3 separate regions of the Homo sapiens genome follow, and regions 1 and 3 are each reported to be linked to region 2. Evidence: microRNA targets listed by miRTarBase, many of them from high-throughput screens and not tested one by one. Region 2 holds a microRNA gene; each other region holds the end of a gene's coding sequence.

The links. The annotated mature microRNA hsa-miR-4474-5p reads UUAGUCUCAUGAUCAGACACA and lies in region 2 at 2,588-2,608, shown strand. An mRNA with a match to its seed (bases 2 to 7 or 8) in the 3' UTR can be bound and repressed. Matches are read on the target gene's strand: a 7mer-m8 pairs with bases 2 to 8, a 7mer-A1 pairs with bases 2 to 7 and ends in A, and an 8mer does both.
Region 1: the mRNA of CEP55 is a reported target of hsa-miR-4474-5p. Seed matches in the 3' UTR shown: 7mer-m8 at 1,478-1,484.
Region 3: miRTarBase lists SMIM21 as a target of hsa-miR-4474-5p. Seed matches in the 3' UTR shown: 7mer-m8 at 2,310-2,316.

What each region holds. Positions count from the first base shown.
Region 1 is chr10:93,526,916-93,534,205 of GRCh38, forward strand. CEP55 (centrosomal protein 55) reads left to right here. Exons shown (of 9, transcript NM_018131.5): 9 at 1,035-2,177. The coding sequence ends at 1,238. Among named protein-coding and RNA genes, the nearest start is that of CEP55, 34 kb to the left of the region's middle.
Region 2 is chr9:20,497,918-20,504,917 of GRCh38, reverse strand. It overlaps MIR4474 (microRNA 4474), which reads left to right and starts at 2,576; the gene lies at 2,576-2,653. The region is part of intron 2 of MLLT3 (MLLT3 super elongation complex subunit); the gene reads left to right.
Region 3 is chr18:75,404,710-75,412,009 of GRCh38, reverse strand. SMIM21 (small integral membrane protein 21) reads left to right here. Exons shown (of 3, transcript NM_001037331.3): 3 at 1,101-2,534. The coding sequence ends at 1,146. LOC105372200 (a long non-coding RNA gene) reads right to left here and starts at 6,564. Exons shown (of 4, transcript XR_935636.3): 1 at 4,918-6,564; 2 at 3,937-4,105. RefSeq lists an enhancer at 2,351-3,550.

The DNA of each region.
Region 1 (7,290 bases), not on the chromosome of region 2:
CACCCCAGGACCTGTTGTGGGGTGGGGGGAGTGGGGAGGGATAGCATTAGGAGATATACCCAATGTAAATGATGAGTTAATGGGTGCAGCACACCAACATGGCACATGTATACATATGTAACAAACCTGCACATTGTGCACATGTACCCTAAAACTTAAAGTATAATTAAAAAAAAAAAAGAATTTGTAATTTTCCTGTACTTTGTTCCTGCTATCCACCCTCTTCACTGTGCTGTAAAATACTCATTTTTAACTACTCCAAGTTCTTAGAAAAAAAACACAAAAAAGGAAAGTCTCAAAGGTATGATAGAATATCTTAGTCATTTCTGTGTATAAGCTGTTTGAGCTGCTAAAATTGCTTGCTGCCTTTAATTTCCATGTAGTACTTTATTGCTGACGTTGCCTCTGTTTTACAAAACTAGCAAATTTAATCAGCCTTGCATATAGGCCTACCTAATATTCGACTCTGTGTCCTAATAAAACATATTCATATATACACCCAACTCCCATATCTGGGTAATTTGGATAATTACAGTAGTTATCTGGATAAATTCACAACTACCTCATATATTACCCTCATAATACTGATGAGCTGAAATTCAAAAGAAAATCTGTCTACAGTGCTGAAGCAGCTATAATACTTATGGAACAGTTAAAATTGCTGAACAGGCTGGGTGCAGTGGTTCATGCCTGTAATCCCAACACTTCGGGAGGCTGAGGTGGGCAGATCACTTGAGCTTAGGAGTTTGAGACCAGCCTGGGCAACATAGAATTAATTTTTTGTAGAATTTTCTATTTCTACAAAAAATAGAAATATTATCTGGACGTGGTGACATGTGCCTGTAGTCCCAGCTACTTAGGAGGCTGAGGTGAGAGGATTGCTTAAGCCTGGGAGGTCGAGGCTGCAGTGAGCCATGTTTGTGCCACTACACTCTGGCCTGGGTGACAGAGTGAGACTGCCTCAAAAAAAGAAAAAAAAAAAGCTGAACATTGGCCCTATTTACAAATTCTATTATTTGAAACTTATTTTTCAGAAACAGCTTCATGAGTTTGCCATCACAGAGCCATTAGTCACTTTCCAAGGAGAGACTGAAAACAGAGAAAAAGTTGCCGCCTCACCAAAAAGTCCCACTGCTGCACTCAATGAAAGCCTGGTGGAATGTCCCAAGTGCAATATACAGTATCCAGCCACTGAGCATCGCGATCTGCTTGTCCATGTGGAATACTGTTCAAAGTAGCAAAATAAGTATTTGTTTTGATATTAAAAGATTCAATACTGTATTTTCTGTTAGCTTGTGGGCATTTTGAATTATATATTTCACATTTTGCATAAAACTGCCTATCTACCTTTGACACTCCAGCATGCTAGTGAATCATGTATCTTTTAGGCTGCTGTGCATTTCTCTTGGCAGTGATACCTCCCTGACATGGTTCATCATCAGGCTGCAATGACAGAATGTGGTGAGCAGCGTCTACTGAGACTACTAACATTTTGCACTGTCAAAATACTTGGTGAGGAAAAGATAGCTCAGGTTATTGCTAATGGGTTAATGCACCAGCAAGCAAAATATTTTATGTTTTGGGGGTTTTGAAAAATCAAAGATAATTAACCAAGGATCTTAACTGTGTTCGCATTTTTTATCCAAGCACTTAGAAAACCTACAATCCTAATTTTGATGTCCATTGTTAAGAGGTGGTGATAGATACTATTTTTTTTTTCATATTGTATAGCGGTTATTAGAAAAGTTGGGGATTTTCTTGATCTTTATTGCTGCTTACCATTGAAACTTAACCCAGCTGTGTTCCCCAACTCTGTTCTGCGCACGAAACAGTATCTGTTTGAGGCATAATCTTAAGTGGCCACACACAATGTTTTCTCTTATGTTATCTGGCAGTAACTGTAACTTGAATTACATTAGCACATTCTGCTTAGCTAAAATTGTTAAAATAAACTTTAATAAACCCATGTAGCCCTCTCATTTGATTGACAGTATTTTAGTTATTTTTGGCATTCTTAAAGCTGGGCAATGTAATGATCAGATCTTTGTTTGTCTGAACAGGTATTTTTATACATGCTTTTTGTAAACCAAAAACTTTTAAATTTCTTCAGGTTTTCTAACATGCTTACCACTGGGCTACTGTAAATGAGAAAAGAATAAAATTATTTAATGTTTTAATATGTCTAGTGTATTCGTGTATATATAGATATTCTAAGATTCTTGTTTAAAAAAACAAATGTGTTGGACATAATCAAAATTCAAGATTTTCACAATAAAATATTTAAGACATAATTCAAAGCACATTATCAAAAAAGTGAAAATACAACCAACAGAAAGAGAAAAAATATTTTCAAACCATGTATCTGATAAGGGTCTAGTATCCAGAATATATAAAGCACCATTACAACTCAATAAATAGATATTCTAAGATTCTTACCCCCAAGGACTTATCAGGGGTTACAGATTAACACTCAGTGTAAGATGATAAGGCAGTTAAGGATACATCAGAACCGAAAACTATGTGAAGGAGTTAGAAGGAGTAGATGCTTTCACGCATCTTTCTTAAATAAATAACTCTTTATCAATAAATATGAATTTGAGTTATTTGTTACAGAGGCAAAACAATAAGCATGCCAAATTATATAGGGTTTTTTTTTCTAACCATAGAAATTATACAGATCTGTTGATGGAAATAAAATTTTGCCATTACTGTTAATCCCAGGCTCACAAGATCTTCAACTACAGTTGAACAAAAGATATGGACATATTCAGCCGCATAGTTCTTATTCCGATCCACAATGTTATAGCAAAGACCATAGTATTAAATCATAAATATATGCCATAAGGAAGTTGCTCCCCTTACAACTTTAAAGCAAGCCAGTATTACCTCTAGTTTGTAGATGTGGAACATGTCTTGGTCATCCAGTGAGCAGTGGAGTCAAGCAGAACCCAGGCCTTTGGTCCGTGCCTGTATGGAACAAGAGATGTGGTCTCATGGGATAACTGGCCAGGACATAAACCATAACAGAAGCGCCAGCCTGATGACCTCTGAAGTTTGATTCCCAGAGCCACAGGGTGATCTGGAGTTTGTTTCAAGACTCTTGTACTTTCTGTGTTTCACTGGAGGGCTGTACTTAGCTTTCCCTGCTCACTTTAGCCACCTACATCTGGGCACCAATATCAAAAAAATAACTTTGGAAAAATTGGGCAGGCTTCTTGTGGAGCTCTGCTACTGTAGAGGGGGAATTTATATATTTCCGAAGAGTAGATGATTTAGAGCAGGAAGGATTCTACTTTCCCAGATCATGTTACCAAAGCAAGGGTCAATAAAAGGCATCTTCAAGACCTGAAAATCTTCAAGGTTCTCATAATTGAAGACTTTTTTTTCCCCCTTCACTGTCCACCTTTTTTCTTGGCAGATAACCGCTTACCCTTAGGGCATGTTTTCTTCTGTGGGACTGTAAACTACCAGAAACCATGCTAGATACTTTAACTACTTATACTCATTAGCTCTTCCTTGCAAATCTGTGAAGTAAAGTGCTAGCACCAGCACCATTTTTCAGATGAGAAAACTAAGGCTTGCAGAGAGTGAACAATTTGCCCAAGGTCACCACTGATAAGTAGTAAAGAAAGGATATAAACTCAGCTCAGTGTGTCGCAGAGTTCATCTCTCTCCATTGTACAGTTACATTCCCAACCAACATGCTGGGGCTGCCATGCCAGGATTACTCCACTCTGTTGCTTTTTATTAAAAAATTATGTTACATATTTTATTACACAATTATTTTACATAAAATAAAATGTACAGATCAATGAGTTTTGACAGATGTATATATATATCATTGTAATCATCAGCCAAATAAAGTTATAGACTCTACCAACATTTCTGAAAGTTTCTTTAATTACTTCTAGTCCAGAATCCCCTCCTCCCAGAGGCAATCTAATTTATTTTTATTTTTATTTATGTATTTATTTTTAGAGACAGGGTCCCCTCTGTCACCCAGGCTGGAGTGCAGTGGTACAGTCATAGCTCACTGCAGTCTTAAACTCCTGGGCTCAAGTGATCCTCCTGCCTCAGCCTCCCAAGTACCTAGGACTGCAAGCATATGCCACCATGCCTTGCTAATATTTTTAATTTTTTATAGAGACATGGTCTCATTGTGTTGTCCAGTCTGGTCTCAAACTCCTGGGCAAATGCAATTCTCCTGCCTTGGCCTCCCAAATTGTTGGGATTACAGGTGTGAGTCACCGCACCTGGCCCTATTTATCTTAACACATGCTAAATTAATAACTACACTAATTAACTAAATTACTAAATGCCACAATAAATTAACAAAATTAATAAGACTAATGCTGGAGTGTTATTGTGTCTTGAAATCAGGGTAAGTCCCCCAACTTTATTCTTCAAGAATGTCTTGACTAATATAGGACATTTCCATTTTCATATACATTTTAAAATCAGCTTGTCAATTTTTACAAAAGTTTCCTGGAATTTCCATTGGGATAGTATATATCTATAGATTAATTTCTCAAAAATTGACATCTGCACAATCCAGAAACATTTCTTCATTTAGTTCTTTTTTAGCTGCTCTCAGCAATGTTTACAGCTTTCAGTGCATAGAGCTTAGCCTTTTATTAAGTTTATTCTTGAAAGTCTGAGTTTTATGCTATTATAAATGGCCTTTTAAAAATTTATTTTCCAGCCAGGCGCAGTGGCTTACACCTGTAATCCCAGCACTTTGGGAGGCCGAGGTGGGTGGATCTCTCGAGGTCAGGAGTTCGAGACCAGCCTGGCCAACATGGTGAAAACCCATCTCTACTGAAAATACAAAAATTAGCCAGGAGTGGTGGTGTGCACCTGTAATTCTAGCTACTGGAAAGGCTGAGGCACAAGAATCACTTGAACCCAGGAAGTAGAGGTTGCAGTGAGCCAAGATCATGCCACTGCACTCCAGCCTGGGCAACAGAGTGAGACTCTGTCTCAAAAAAAAAAAATTATTTTCTAATTGTTTGTTGCTAGGGTTAGAAATGCAACTGATTTTTGTATATTGACCTAGTAGCATCCTGGAATCTTATTAATTTATTAATTAATTTTAGTATTTTCACCTCTCTGAATTCAAATATTGTATTTTACAGTTCTAGAACAGTGCTGTCCAATGGAAATATGCAAGCCTCATGTAATTTTGTTTTCCAGTAGCCACATTAAAAAATACTAAAATAGACAAGGGATGGTGGCTCACTTCTGTAATCCCAGTACTTTGGGACGCCAAAGCAGACAGATCACTTGAGCCCAGGAGTTTGAGACCAGCCTGGGAAACATGGCGAAACTCTTTGTACCAAAAAAAAAAAAAAGAAAGAAAAAAAAAATTAACTGGGAATGGTGGTGCATGCCTGTAGTCCCAGCTACTCAGGAGGCTAAGGTGAGAGGATCACTTGAGCCCAGGAGCTGGAAATTGCAGTGAGTCAAGATCATGCCACTGCACTCCAGCCTGAGTGACAGAGTGACACCCTGTCTCAAAAAAAAAAAAAAAAAAAGAAAAGAAAAGTAAAACAACAACAAAAGTAGTAAAATAGCCAGGTGCAGTGGCTCATACCTGTAATCCCAGCAGTTTGGGAGGCCAAGGGAGGAGGATCACTTGAAGCTAGGAGTTCGAGCCTGGCCTGGACAGCAAGGAGACCCCTCCATCTCTACAAAAAATAAAAAAAGTAAAATAATTGGTGTAGTTAATTTTAATAATATGTTTCATTTAACTATACATATCCCAAATATTATCACTTAACATATAATCAATATAAAAACTATTAATGAGCTATTTTATGCTAAATCTTTGAAATTTAGTATTTCAAAATTACTGCACATCTCAATTTGGACTAACCACACTTGAAATGCTCAATAGCCACATTGTGGCTGTCGTGGCTAAGGGCTACCATGTTGGATAGCATGGATCTAGGATCTCTCTTCTTTTACTAGAGTTCCCATTTCTCTTCTGAGTTCTCTATTCACCCATTCTGTCCATTTCTTCCTGTAAATTCTTTAGCATATTCATAGCAGCTTAAAACAGTTAACATAGATGCTAATTCCAACATCTAGGTCATCTATGTGTCTATTTTTATTGGCTAATTTTTCTCATTATGGGTCACATTTTTTGTGTTTCTATACATGTCTATTAAATTTTTTAGTATAGGAGTGACATTGTAGATGATACATTACAGAAATTCTGGATTATTTTCCTTTTGAGAATATACAGTTGTGTTCTTGGAGACTCAAATTGCCACATTTGTTTAGGCTGTATTTCACCATGCACTGTCAGGACTAAATAATACTCATGGGGGAAAACCAGTTAAATATAGAACTCACTTTGCTTCCCTTCTTTCAAGAGCCATGGCCATTCCAGTGGCTGCCTGCCTTTGGTTGTTCTTCATTGCCATCAACAGTTGTTTTTCATATTTTGTCCAGAGTTTATAATTGTTATTGAATAGTGGGTTAGTCTGATAAAAGCTACACTGTCATTACCAGAACTGGAACCATCTACTGGTTTTGGTATTTTCTGTTGTTGTTGTTTTGTTTTCCTTTTTTATTTTATTTTATTTTTTTTCTTAAGAAGTCTGTTGTATTTGAGCAGGAGTTTATGCTAGGAGCCATATTCTGTGTGTGCATGTCCAGCCTCCAACAAACCCACAAACTGGTGATTCCTTGGTGACTTTAATATCAGCAAACGTAACTCTCGTCCTCAGATAGAAGGCAGATGGAGGTAAATGGAGAAGGGAGGGAAGGATAAATGAGTTATAGGATCCATTGCTTTCACCAAGAGCTTAATGTTTTAAAGGCAGGGGCTACATGATAGAAAAATACATTCAAAGAAGAGAACTTCATGGGAAAAACTAAAACCTCTGAGTTTCCCACTATGTGCTAAATTTGTGGTTATGTGTTACTTTGTCAAGGGCTACAGCTAGCCACTTGGATTTTTTGTTTTTTTGTATTTTTTTTTTTTTTTGAGATGGAGTTTCACTCTTGTTGCCCAGGCTGGAGTGCAATGGCATGATCTTGGCTCACCGCGACCTCCACCTCCTGGGTTCAAGCGAGTCTCCTGTCTCAGTCTCCCGAGTAGCTGGGATTACAGGCATGTGCCACCATGACTGGCTAATTTTATATTTTTATTAGAGACGGGGTTTCTCCATGTTGGTCAGGCTAGTCTGAAACTCCTGACCTCAGGTGATCCGCCCGCCTTGGCCTCCCAAAGTGCTGGGGTTACAGGCGTGAGCCACCGCACCCGGCCCAGCTAGCTACTTT
Region 2 (7,000 bases):
AAAACATGGGTCTCATCAAGTTTTTCTACTTAAAAAAATAATTTTTTAAATTGAAAAATAAAAATTATACATATTTATAGTGTATAACATGATGTGGAAATCTGTATACATTGTGAAATGGCCAAATTGAGCTAATTAACATATGCATTATCTCAGGTACTCATCATGTTTTGTGGTGAGAAGACTTAAAATCCCCTTAATGTTTTTCAAAATAAAATACATTGTTATGAACTGTAGTCACCATATTGTACAATAAATCTCTTGAACTTATTCCTCTTATCAAGTGAAATTTTATATCCTTTGAACAACATCTCCCCAACTCTCCACCTGCCCCCACCCACCACCATTCTACTCTTTGATTCAATGAGTTCAGCTTTTTTAGATTACACATACACATGAAATCATGTGATTATTTGTCTTTCTGTGTCTGGCCTATTTCTCTTAACATAATGTCTTCCAGGTTCATTCATGTTGTTGAAAATGACAGGATTTCCTTCTTTTTAAAGGCTGAATAGTATTCAGCCTTTAATATAATTATATTTGTACACACACACACACACACACACAATTCCATTGGGGATATATATTTCACATTTTCTTTGTCCATTCTTCTCTTCATGGACACTTAGGTTGATTCCATATCTTGACTATTGTAACTAGTACTGCAGTGAAAATGGAAGTACAGATATCTTTTTGAAATACTGGTTTTGTTTCCTTTGGATGTATACACAGTTTTGGAATTGCTAGGTCAATAATTTAATTTTTGAGGAACCTTAAAATTTTCCATAATGGCTATACTAGTTTTCATTCCCACCAACAGTATACAGTGGATCCTTTTTCTCTGCTCTCTATATCCTTGCAAAAATCTATCTTCATCTTTTCGATAATAGCCATTCTAGCACGTGTGAAGTGATATCTCATTGTGGTATTAATTTGCATGTCTCTGATGATTAGTAATGTTGGGCATTTTTTCATACACCTGTTGCCTATTTGTATGTCGTCTTTTGAGAAATGTCTTTTCAAGTCCTTCACCCATTTTAAAATCAGGTTATTTATTTTCTTGCTATTGAGTTGTTTGAGTTCCTCATATATTTTGGATATTAGTCTTTTATCAGATGCATGGTTTGCATATATTTTTTTCCAGGCTGCAGGTTGTCTTTCAGTGTGTTGATTGTTTTCTTTGCTGTGCAGAGCTCTTTAGTTTGATGTAATCCCAGTTATCTATTTTTTTGTTTTTGTTTTTGGTTGCCTGTGCTTTTGGGGTCATATCCAAAGAATCATCACCCAGAATAATGTCATGGAGAATTTCTGCTATGTTTTCTTCTAGTATTTTTATGGTTTCAAGGTTTACATTTGAATCTTTAGTCCATTTTGAGTTGATTTTTATATTTAGTATGAAGTAAGGGTCGAATTTCATTCTTATGTGTGTGGTGTCCAGTTTTCCTAACACCATTTATTGAAGAGGCTGTGCTTTCCCCATTGTGCATTCTTGGCACCTTTGTTGAAAATCAATTGACTGTATATGTGTAGATTTATTTCTGGGCCCTCTATTCCATTCCATTGATCTGTGTGTCTCTTTTTATACCAGCAGCATGCTGTATTGATTACTGTAGCTTGGTAGTATACTTTGAAGTTAGATAGTGTGATGCCTCTAGCTTTGTTCTTTTTGCTTGAGATTACTTCAGATATTTGGGGTCTTTCGTGGTTCCATACAAATTTTAGGATTGTTTTTTCTATTTCTGTAAAAAATGTCATTGAAATTTTGATTGGGGAATCTGTAGATCACTTTGGGTAGTGTGGACATTTTAACACTATTAATTTCTCCACTTGTGAACACAGTATGTCTTTCCACTTATTTGTGTTGTCTTCAGTTTTTTTCATCAATCTTTTATAGTTTCTGGTGTACAGGTCTTTCAACTTCTTGGTTTAAATTTTTTCCTAAGCATTCTGTTCTTTTTGGTTGCTGTAGTGAATGGATTGTTTTCTTAATTTATCTTTCAGATAGCTCATTGTTAGCATATACAGATGCTACTGATGTTTGAAAAATGATGTTGATTTTGTTTCCTGCAGCTTCACTGAATTTATTTATTAGTTCTAACAGTTTTTTGATGGAGATGTTAGGGTTGTTTGTCTACAGTCATTCCTCAGTATCTGCAGGGGATTGGTTCCAGGACCTCCTGTGGATACCCAAACCCATGGATTCTGAAATCTCTGATATAAAATAGCATAGTATTTGCATATAACCTATGCACATTCTCCTGTATACTACACATTATCTCTAGATTACTTATAATAACTAATACATTGTAAATGTTATATAAATAGTTGGTATACTGTATTGCTTAGGGAATAATGACAATAAAAAAGTTCAGTACAGATGTAATTTTTTCTCCTAATATTTCAATCTGTGGTTGGTTGAATCCACAGATGTGGAACCCATGGATATAGACAAGCAACTGTATAAGATCACGTTGTCTGCAAGTTTTTTCACCTCTTAAAAATACTTGGTGGCTAGCTATTACCTGTAGAATTCAGCTCCTTACAGTGCTATGTAAGGAACATCACAGGCTGGCATTTGCCTACCTTGTTAGTCTCATGATCAGACACAAATATGGCTCTTTGTGGCTGGTCATGAGGCTAACAAGGTAGGCACCTGGAACCACACTTCAAGTCAGGTTCATTTGTGGTGCCCTGTCAAGCCAGGCATTCTGTATACTCTGGAATTTTTGCTTACATTTTAACTTTGTCAACAATCAGTACTCTTCGTTTTATTATTGTCAGATATTTACCTACTTTTCCTTAAAAGGTAGTCCCCCCCCCCCCCTTTTTTTTTTTTGAGATGGAGTTTCGCTCTTGTTGCCCAGGCTGGAGTGCAATGGCACCATATTGGCTTACTGCAACCTCCGCCTCCCATGTTCAAGTGAATCTCCTGCCTTAGCCTCCCCAGTAGCTGGGATTACAGGTGTGTGTCACCACCCCCAGCTAATTTTTGTATTTTTAGTAGAGACGAGGTTTCACCATATTGGCCAGGCTAGTCTCGAACTCCTGGTCTCAGGTGATCTGCCTGCTTTGGCTTCTCAAAATGCTGGGATTACAGGTCTGAGCCACCTCGCCTGACCTCTTGGGTGCGGTTTTTTTTTTTTTTTTTTTTTTTTTTTTTGAGACGGAGTCTCGCTCTGTCGCCCAGGCCGGACTGCGGACTGCAGTGGCGCAATCTCGGCTCACGGCAAGCTCCGCTTCCCGGGTTCACGCCATTCTCCTGCCTCAGCCTCCCAAGTAGCTGGGACTGCAGGCGCCCGCCACCGCGCCCGGCTAATTTTTTGTATTTTTAGTAGAGACGGGGTTTCACCTTGTTAGCCAGGATGGTCTCGATCTCCTGACCTCATGATCCACCCGCCTCGACCTCCCAAAATGCTGGGATTACAGGCGTGAGCCACCGTGCCCGGCCGGGTGTGGTTTTAACTGAGTCTCCTAGGTCTTAATGAGGGCTCCTTTGGATATTGTAAGTAATAATCATGGTTGTTGGTAAATTTGTCTTCATAGTTAGATGCCTTAACTATGTGAGGGGAAGGAAACTGTCTTATTTGCCTTCGTCACCTCACACATAGCAGAAGGCCTGGTATGTATTCAGTGTTCCATCAATATTTATTGTGTGGAATTTATTTTCCATTACATTTTATGGAGAATGAGAGAATCTTAAAGTAAATGAGGTGTCCTAGAAATGGTATATTTGAATAAAGATTTGTGACATCATGATTTATGGAAGTAGAAAGGGAAATATAGTAATTCCTAGGCATTTTAACTAGTGAATGGATACCATGAACCATAATTGGTAAATTATCCAAAAATCAATCATATTTAGCTAAGGAAAGTGGTGCACATGTGTGTGCATGTGTGTGTGTATCTGTGTGTTTTATAATGGGAAATTCACTTTAAACTAATGAAAGAATGATTTGAAACTCTGAATTATAGGCAATTCTTAATAATTATTGGGAGGGCTAGAGTGTAACCCAGGTTTCTGGGCATTGAACTTAAAGAAGACATTGAACTGGAGGGAGTTGAAAATGATGCAGCTGTGCATCAAGAGATTGCTATTAGTTTCTCTATATGACCTGTGGTAAGTAACTTCTGAATTCGGTTTTTGTAACACAGAACACCTGGAGGACCAAAGTCAATAGGGTATACTCAACTGTAGTAGACAAGATGGAAAACAGTATTGGGAGAAATAAGAATGGGGAAAATATTGAGCCTGGGCATGTCAGTGTATAGCTTTGCCTTAGAATTTAATTTGAACTGAGTGGTCAATAGTTCTTGATGCCCCAGGGAGAACTAGGATATATTCTGGGGCAAATTGAATTTTCCAAAGATTTCCGTAAAGTTATCTTTCACCCACATGCTCTTCTCACAGTTGATTTTGCTACTTCTGTCTTTGAGAGGTAGGGTCTTTGTCTTTTCTTTTTGAAGCTAGGTTGGCTTTTGTGCCTGTTTCAGCCAATAGAGTAGTGCAGAAATGATGCTATGTGATTTCTGAAGCTAGATCAGAAAAGGTGATGCTCCTTTCTTTGTTGAAATACGGTGTTCAGTTGTGAAACCTGCAGCCTTCATGTAAGCAGTCCAGCTGCTCAGAGGCCATTGTGTTGTGAGGAGAGACCAAGGGCCCTGAGAAGACCAACTGTATTAAGCAGCCAGACCTTTGCCCTGCTAGCCCTGCACCGCTCTTGCTTCAGGCACCATTTCAGTGCAGCCAAATGAGAAACTCTGAGCTAGAACCACACAATCAAACCTTTCTGAGTTCCTGACCCTCAGAGAAAGTAAAATGGCTATTACTGTTTTAAACTAAGCTTGATGGTGACTTATTATGTATCAATAGATAATTGGAACATGTTTCTTTGGAGAAGCATTTTTCCATTTTCTGTTAGGTGGTATTGAAGGAAGACAGGGATGGAATAAGAGGCATCTCTGAATGCAGATTTAGAGTTGTCACTGCATTAACACCTGTTCCCCCACATTTTTTTTTAAGAGACAGGTTCTTGCTATGATGTCCAGGCTGGATTCAAAGCCCTAGGCTCAAATAATCCTCTCGCCTCAGCCTTCTGAGTAGCTGGGACTACAGGAGGATGCTACATTTTTACACCCTATTTGGAGACAGAACAATAGAGATCTTAAAAGAAACAGTCATACAAGTTTTTTTCTTCATGTACCTTTACCTAACAGTTGTTAATAAGGGGACAGCTCAGGGTAGACCCTTAAGCTGAGCTGATTGTATTGCAAGGAATGCATCTATTTTGGGGAAATAAGACCATGGGTAAATTCTGCAAATGATTTCGAAGGTATCTCTATGAGAACAGTTATTGCAGCAAAAATGGACTGTTTCAAGGAGGTCAGAGCTTATGTCAAATAATTTATTGTTCAGTGTGTGTTTTTTTTAAAGACAATGTTTTTAGAGCAGTTTGAAGTTCACAGCAAAATTGAGAGGAAGATGTAGAAATATCCTGTGTACCCTCTCCCCTCACACATGCATAGCCTCCCTGTATCATTTACAGTGGGTTTTAAAAACATATTAAACACTAAATGCCTGTTATGGGCTGAGTTATATCCTCCCAAATATATGTTGAATCCTAACCCCAGGTACCTTTGAATGTGACCTTATTTGGAAATAGTGTCTTTTGTAGATGTGATCAATTTAGGATGAGGTCATCATGGATTACTGTTGGCCCAAGTCCAGTGACTGCTGTCTTTATGAGGAGATACTTTATATGAAGATACAGAGGCAGGAAGAAGCCCATGGGAAGATGGAGACAGAGATTGGAGTTATGCTGCTACAACTAAGAAATGCATTTCAAAGATTGCCAGCAACCTCCAGAAGCTAGGAGAGTCAAGGAAGGATTCTTTTCTAGAGCTTTCAGAGGGAATATGGCCCTACTGACACTTTGATTTCAGAATTCTAGCATGAATGGTTAAATTCCTGTTGTTTCAAGCCACCCTATTTGTGGTATTTTGTTACAATAGCCCTAGGAATCTAATACACTAATACTAAGGCAGTATGCTTTAGTGCTTAAAGTTATATTGAAACAATAAAAACAATTTGCTCTTCAAAAGTTACAAAAGTTAAGCCACAGCCTGGGAGAAAATATTTGTTAACATATGTCTGACAAGGGCATGAATCCAGATCAGGGGTGTCCAATCTTTTGGCTTCTTTGGGCCACATTGGAAGAAGAATTGTCTTGGGCCCCACATGAAATACACTACTGATAGCTGATGAGCTAAAAAAAATACAAATCACACACAAAAAAATCTCATAATGTTTTAAGAAAGTTTACAAATTTGTGTTGGGCCGCATTGAAAGCCATCTTGGGCTGCATGTGGCCTGTGGTCGGCGGGTTGGACAAGCTTGATCTAGATTATATGAATAACCTACAGCTGAATAATAAGATGGTTCAGTTATAAAATGGGCAAAAGATTTGAATAGACACTTCATCAAAGGAGATATACAGATGTGAAAGAAGCACAAGAAAAGATACTCGACATCATAAGTGATTAGGAAAATGCAAATTAAAACCAATAGAAGAGTATTACATTCTCAGTAGAATGGCTAAAATTTAAAAGACTGACCACACCAAGTACTGGTAAAGGTAGAACAGCTAGAAGAACTTTTTTTTTTTTTTTTTTTTTTTTTTTTTTTTTTTTTTTGAGACAGCGTCTCGCTCTGTCACCTAGGCTGGAGTACAGTGGCGCCATCTCTGCTCACTGCAGCCTCTGCCTCCACCTCCCAGGTTCAAGTGATTCTCTGCGTCAGCCTCCTGAGTTGCTGGGACTACAGGTGCATGCCACCACGCCCAGCTAATTTTTATATTTTTTAGTAGAGACAAAGTTTCACCATGTTAGGCAGACTGATCTCGAACTCCTGGCCTCAAGTGATCCACTCGCCTCACTGTCCCAAAGTGTTGGCATTACAAGCATGAGCCACTGCACCCATAGAAGAGTTCTTTTACCTAGCTGA
Region 3 (7,300 bases), not on the chromosome of region 2:
ATAGCCACTGTCACCTTCATCTATATATTTGCTGGTGATTTATTAATATCTGTTCTACCTGTCTCGGCCTGCAGGAGACCTTGTATTGCTGCATGCCTTCTATAGAGCAGGGAGAAATGAAGGGAGCAGATGGGATTATGACTTATTTTCCAACGTTGAATTTATAAAAAGATCTTTTGTCAGACATTGCACAGCAGTTTGTAGGATGAAATTAATCCTATGAATAAAATTGCTAACCTCCACCTAAAATAGGTGCTTTATTTAAAGAAGGATCGATGAGGCTTGCTAAATATTATTTTTAGTGTTGATGAAAGATTTTCATAATATCAGGCTGCAAACATGGGCTAAAGTGGCAGTTCTGGATGCCATGCCAGCGTGCTGGAGCTGGCTAACGATGTCACCCACAATGTCAGTGAGGCAAAGCCACCCCTGAGCTGTCTCCAGGCCTCTGTCCCTCCTCTGCAATCTCAGGGTAGGAGAAATGTTTTTCTCAATGCATGTGAATCTAACTTTGGACACATCTCACAGTCTCATCTTCCAAGGATCATCATTCGTGAGTTAGACAGCAAAACGGTTAGCCGTGTCCACCATGTAACAAAACACATTCTTGAGGCCGTCAGGCCAAACCCCTGAGCTCTTTGTTCTTTGCCCAATGGTCTCATGGCTTCTGGTTTTTAGGGGAACATTATGACTGGTCTACTATTTTGGTGCTGCTTCTTTTTGAAAAGGTTCAGAAAGAGAGTTTATTTCAGAGTTCGCATATACTCGACTTCTATCTATCATCCTTTATACAAGGCTAGTAAGGGCTTTGAGAAGCCAGTGCATCCTACATTACTGTCTTTGTGGCCTTTGGTGTTTCATTCTCAGAGAATTATTCCAGGGTTCCTAGCTATTCTGAACTCAAAATTCCTGTTACCATCAAACAGTACTTGCTCCGGTGAGTATAATCCTCAGCCTCAAAACACTCCAAAATCTTGGGGGGAAAAATTAAATTTTAAAATGTGTTCATTAGATAAAAACAAATGGTCAATTTTATTGTAATATTTTGATTATATCTATCAAAAAAATAAAATGCTTTTTCCCCCTTTTGTCTCTTGCAGCTTTCTACGTTTGAAGTCATCCAGGAACACAGCAGAAGCAGAATAAATGACACTACGTTTCTCTCTCATGGCCTTCATACCATGGATTTCCCCTGCTCAAGATGAAAAGAAATTAAGAGGAAATCAGATTGCTTAGAGATAGCAGATTATTGCTCACTTTTTAAAAGGAGCTCCACAGAGAGAATGAAGAACGTGTAACTTTTTGCAATGATAATGTCTGCTTTGTTCTTGAGGGGCACTCTTCCTTTTTCTGTTCAGGAATATTCCGGAGGAGAGCTGCAGATGCCACCCAACCCTGCGAAATCTGCCCTGCGTGTCGAAACAGATCCAGCAGTGCAAAGAACTTCTTCATTAGGACATCAAGCCTGTAGTCATATTTTCAATTGCTGCTGTAACTTTTTCCTTGCAAGTGCTTTCACTTATTTCGGGACCACCTAAGGCTCTGTGTGGTATACAGCAACACAGTTTGAGATATTTCTGTGATGTTCTGTATATCATATAGTTGCTAACAACCTGTCAAAGTCATCCTGACACCAAACTGAGAAGCTGATGGTTTGGGTAACATATTAGAGGAGATGAAAAAACCGACAGTCCTCATTACTGTAATAAAACCAGCAGAGACACACTGAGAATCAATTACTGATTGTGACCTAATGAACTAACCCTCAGTCAAGTAGAAAACTGCACCAAGCCTCTTACATTATCAAATGATTTAGGATGGAGCACTGTCTGAAGACGGGCAACAAGTCGAGGCAGATGAGTTTTCTTATATTGTGGCTGACTTAATTACCTTGTTCCTGAGTGCAGAGATCAAATTGAGCAACTTAAGGTGCTAAAGCTCTGTGCCAGCTGGAAATGAAAAGGAAATAATTAACACCAACAAGAGCTACGTCTAAGGTTGTGGCACCTCCTGACAGAAGCAAGGAGACTCAAAGTTAAGGCGGCTGCAAAGTCCTTGACGAGGTGAGCCCTGCTCTATCCGCCTGGCTGGATTCGTCCAGGTTGCCTGTGGCAGCTGTGCACTGAAGAGTCCGGCTGGGGAGCCAGGGATTCAGAACTCACAGTGCAGCCTGACGACCAAAGGGCAAATCCACCTGAGGACCTGAGTGCAGATGGCTGGGCTCCCCGGAACAAAGTGGAGGAATGACAGAGGTGTAACTCTTACACCACAGCCTCCATCTGTGTGTCGCAGAGAAAAATACTATAATGGAGACTATTCTTACACACATACACACACACACACACACACAGAGTTCTTGTCACCGATGGAACAGTCTGTCTTTGTCTTTCATCTCCCACATTCATGTCCAGATCCCATTGCGCTGCATCACACGTGAACCCAGTGAGGTCAACAATGAATGGATGGTGTTCACAAAGAAACCAGCTTATGGAAGGGGACCTGTTACAATTCTTTGAATTAAGTTCTTGGAAGCCATTTTTCATCTCATTTGTCACTATAGTGTTCTTCTCTTCACACATGCAGGGGTGGCAAGGCATCAAACCAAAACATGGCAGGCTCCTTCACTGCCAGACTAGGAGATGAATCCTGGGTACACTGAAAAGGAAGCACTCAGAAGCAGTGACAGTGATGACAATCGAGGCCCCAGGTTCACATCCCTCAGTCCTCCCATGAAGGATCTAGTCCCACTCAGAGGACACGCCCAGGCTGCATCTGCACTACCTGTACTTCCCAACAGGCATTTGGAGAGGAGAGACTCAGCTCTGTCAACATAAAGCTCTGTGAAGCCAGCTTGAGTGCTTCCCACAAAGGGTTGAGTGGGATTAATCTCCCCACATCACTGATGAATCAGTCCCATCAGCACTGCATGTGGCATCATCAGACCACAAGGACACACTTCATGAAGGGGTTTCTCAGTATTGAGTCATCACTCGAAGACCTGACACACAAATGAGTCACAGCTGGGAGAGTGTTTGGAGAAATGGGCATTTGAGAAATGGGCTGTGTAGGCCGTATCCCCTCCATAGGAAGTCGGCAAACTAGGGCGAGGCAAGGATGCTCCCACTGCAGCCACACACTACAAATCAGGGGCAGGGATGCTTAACTCTGCCCAACTTTAGATGAGTTTTAAAAAGCAGCACTTCTCAGACCTAGTTAAATGCAGATTCTGATTCATAGGTCTGGGTGAGGCCAGAGATTGTGCAATTCTAACAAATCCGCGACAATGCCGCTGGACTTGCCTGTGTTTGAACTATCCTGGGAGCATCACGGCCTCAAATCTTCTGTTCCTTCCCCCAGGGTCCTTATCCAGTTGGGCAGACATACTAGACATTCTAACTACATCCTATGAGCACAATCATAAGTCCTATGAGCAACTTACCACTCCAAAGGAGGTAGATGGAACTGAGTGCTCTGGTAAATTTCTGGAGCACCAGGCCCCTTGGCCAGCCCAGTCTTCAAGGCCCACTTTTGGGAGCATGGCCTTTAAGGCCCTCACACGAGCAAGCCAATAAGTGGTAAGGAGCAGAGCAGAATTCCCCAGGGGCTGGAGGGTAGGTGTTGATCAGGCCCAGGCAAGCACAGCACAGTCAAAGTAAACCCATCCAGGCCTGTGTACCCTGCCCCGACCATGAGACTCCCTGGAGTTAGTTGAGTCTGACCTGAGAGCAAGGTACAGTCACCGGGAGTAATTTTCAAATTAATGAATTGTGTACAGACCATGAGGCAACTGCTTGTCCAGATGCCTTTCATAGTCCACTGATGGAAGCATTCACTAGGCTCCTTGCAGAACTGAATGCTGCAAAAAAGAATTACACAACATCCAGAAACTTGAAAAAGAGGGAAGGGAGATTTGGTACAGGCATCTCGCTCACTAACCTGAGTCTTTGTTGAATGAGAACACGGTGCCTGGTGCGGCCACTGCTGCCACCAGGGACGCCAGGCCAAGCCATCATTCAGTGCTGCTCTGCAGCGTGCTGCCCTGCCCTCCTGAAAGCTGCGTGATTCATTGGATTTAATATTGTCCTGAGTCTCACTCCAGGGAATTCTGCAGGAATGTTGTTCAAAAAAAAAAAAAAAGAAAGAAAGAAAGAAAAAAAAAACAGCCATTTCAAACAGTCTGTAGGCTCCGTTCTATAAAATAGGTTATTAACTTGCAGTGATGGCAGCCAATAGTTCAATTGCTGTAAGGTCACAGGTTATTCAATGGGAAGGACCACATTTTCGATTGTTTTACCCTGACTCCCCGCTGATATGCAGGCTTTACCAGGATTAGTGTTAAAATCCTCACTGTGAAACGCAAAGCCCAGAAAGAAAGCCGCATCCTGCTCGCCTCCGCCTCTGAACCAATGCGGGACCTGTAAATACTCCTCCCCTTGGCTGCTCTCAAGTCCCTTTACGATGAGGCTGGCTTGTAGCAGCGAAGGGGTCGCGCGGGGACTCTCTCCACCTCCTCCAAAGACTATATAATAGCCCATGCAGACATTTCCTGATGTTTAAAATCTCTCCAATTTTCCTCCTCTGCTCCTGCATTTTTAATCTCTGGAATGCCTATGACTGGACGCATGTGCCTACTCCTCCCCACCCCCATCCACCAACATGAAAAGAAGATTCTGTCTGGATTTGGGTCTGCTCTTTTCTGGATACCTACGGGAAGTTCATCGGGTGCTCTCTTACACTTGCCAAGCTGAATCAGGCCCCCAGAGGGTTTCCCTCCCACATTGCCTTCCCGCATCATGAGGGAGGCTGCTGCTGTCTGAAACATAATAAACGTTTCTTAAAATTCCTTTCCGATCACACCTAAACTCTGACAAGTATTTGCAGCTTCTATCTCCTTTGAATTTAAGGAGGATGACAAACCTGAGCACAGAACAAACAATATCTCCACCTAATGATTGCAAGCCCAACTTCCAGGACTTGACTTCCGAGGCCTTACTGACTTCCGGAACTTGGCTTCCGGAGCCTGACTGACTTCCACAGCCTGACCCGGAAGGCTTTGGTAATTTTGAACCGGAGCTTTTTCAGGAATCTGCGGGCTTGGTGTCTGAGGCCCTCACAGTCAAGCCCCATCCACACACTGGACATCACAGCTCTGCCCCATGGACAGTGCAGATAATGTTTAATTGAAAACAAAAGTGTCATTTTGGAAGGCCTGCCCCACCCCACGCCCCCACCTGACACACGTGGAGGCTTCAGAGTGTGCAGGGCTGAGCCTCACGACCTTCTCCCTCGAATGTTCCCTGAAGCCCCTCGGATCTCTTGACACAGGCGCCTTCTCCATCCCTGCCGCCCGCTGCTCTCACCGAGGGAGGCTGCTGTCGCCACACCCTGAGCTGGGCTTCGCGGTTGAGATTCACAGTAACTCGCCTCAAAGAAGCTACCGGCAGGGAAACATCTCCTCAGGGTATGTCTGCTCCCAAACAGACGCCACTTGGAAAAGATCACGTTTGCTGTTTATCTTCTATTTGCCACAGTAGTACACGAAAATAGAGTATTTGCAAGAAATTAAGAAGAACAACGAAACTGAAACTACCTGATGATCCCACCCTTGAGATAAACACGGGTAACATTTTGTAGGATTGCTTTTCAGTCTTCTCAGTCCCATTTCAAAAACAGCACAACATACAGTGTGAGATCTCTTGAAAGTTGTCAACCATGGGCTTTAGACCGAACTTGGGAATGAATATTCTGCCTTTTCTGTTCACGGCCTGCGTACGTTTCCCACCTCTGCCTTTCCTACCCCTCTGAGTGTTCTTGGAGGAAACCATGGTGTGCCCACGAGGCCATTCTGGGGATATGTTTAAAACTCCTCCTTCACAGAAACAGCCAAAGGGTGAAAGTATAAATCAGCTGCCCAGTGTTCAAAAAAAAAAAATCAACCATGCAGGGTTCAGGCTGGCCTTCCCAGCAGCCGAATGAGCAGAAGGGCTCAATGCTCTGCAGATTTGGGGATGTGCCCTAACACATGAAAGACTTGTCATCTGAAAATCACCGGGGGCCATGGGGGCCTCCACTAAGGTCCTCAGAGGCCTTCCTTCATCCACACACAGCCGGGCAACTCCAAAAGATGCTGTGCCCTGGGCAACATCCGAGCACTTCTTTTTGAAGGCTCAAAACAGGCCGTGTGCCACCCACATAGCACCTGGCCTTCCCCTTCACAGCAGGTAGCTGATGTCGCTGTTGGTCTGTACTTGGAGGTTATTTGATGCTTGTCTGTCTTCCCCCATGAGATTTTAAACTTCACAAGAATAGCGACTTTGCCACTTATGCTCAGAATTTTATTTCTAGTGCCTAAAACCAAGGTTCTCAACAAATATTTGGTGAGTAGATGAAGAAATAACAAGTGGGTGAGTAAAAAGGGTGGAATTTCCAAGGCTAGTATGACCAATAGCTGGCCCAACCAAGATCATTCCCCTCACAAGCTGTCACTCCTCCTTTACCCCCAACCCTCCACCTCTACACCTTACCTACCGTGTGTGACTCTGAATCACCCACCAGGAAGGCAAAACTGAGACAACTAAAGAGAATACAAGGGCACACGCCTTCCTGTTAAGGTCCTGACAGTTTATGACGCTAAAAAAAAAAAAAAAAAAAAAAAAAAAGGTAATACTGGAAGCATCTAGCTATGATCCTGATGATTTGAGAAAAGCCACAAAACTTGGCTAATTGGGATCATCTCCCTTTTATAAGCTCCAAATTTGATGGCCCTTCAAAGACACTTTCTAAATCCTACCTCACACTACCTATCATTCTTAGTAGAAGCTACCCACTTTCCACAAAGTAATACAGACTATCAGATAATGAGTTTCTAGAATTTATCTATGCCCACCCAGTCTATCTTTGCACTTCTGTTAGAGAAAAAGATACTCCTGTACTTCTCCAAATCTGACCAGGCTACTTTTGACTCTTTCAGTCTCTCTCCCCACAACCTTTCCCCACACATGCACATACATAGACACACACATATATCTTTAATCTTTCCGTTTAATTTGTCTTCTTCTCTCCCATCTGTAAACATGCTCAAAACTCTTCTTAAAAATAAAACATAAGTGCCCCAAATCATAAAACGACTTCTCTTCTCCAACTCTCTCTCAGGATAAGGACCATCTTTATCTCTCACTTGTAGAGAGAAAACTGTATGCAAAGAAATGGAAACCCATTTGCCCCTATCACAAATCAATTTCTGCTCACACCACTGCTGAGATAGCTCTCTACTAAATAATCAGTAATTCCCTAGTTGCCA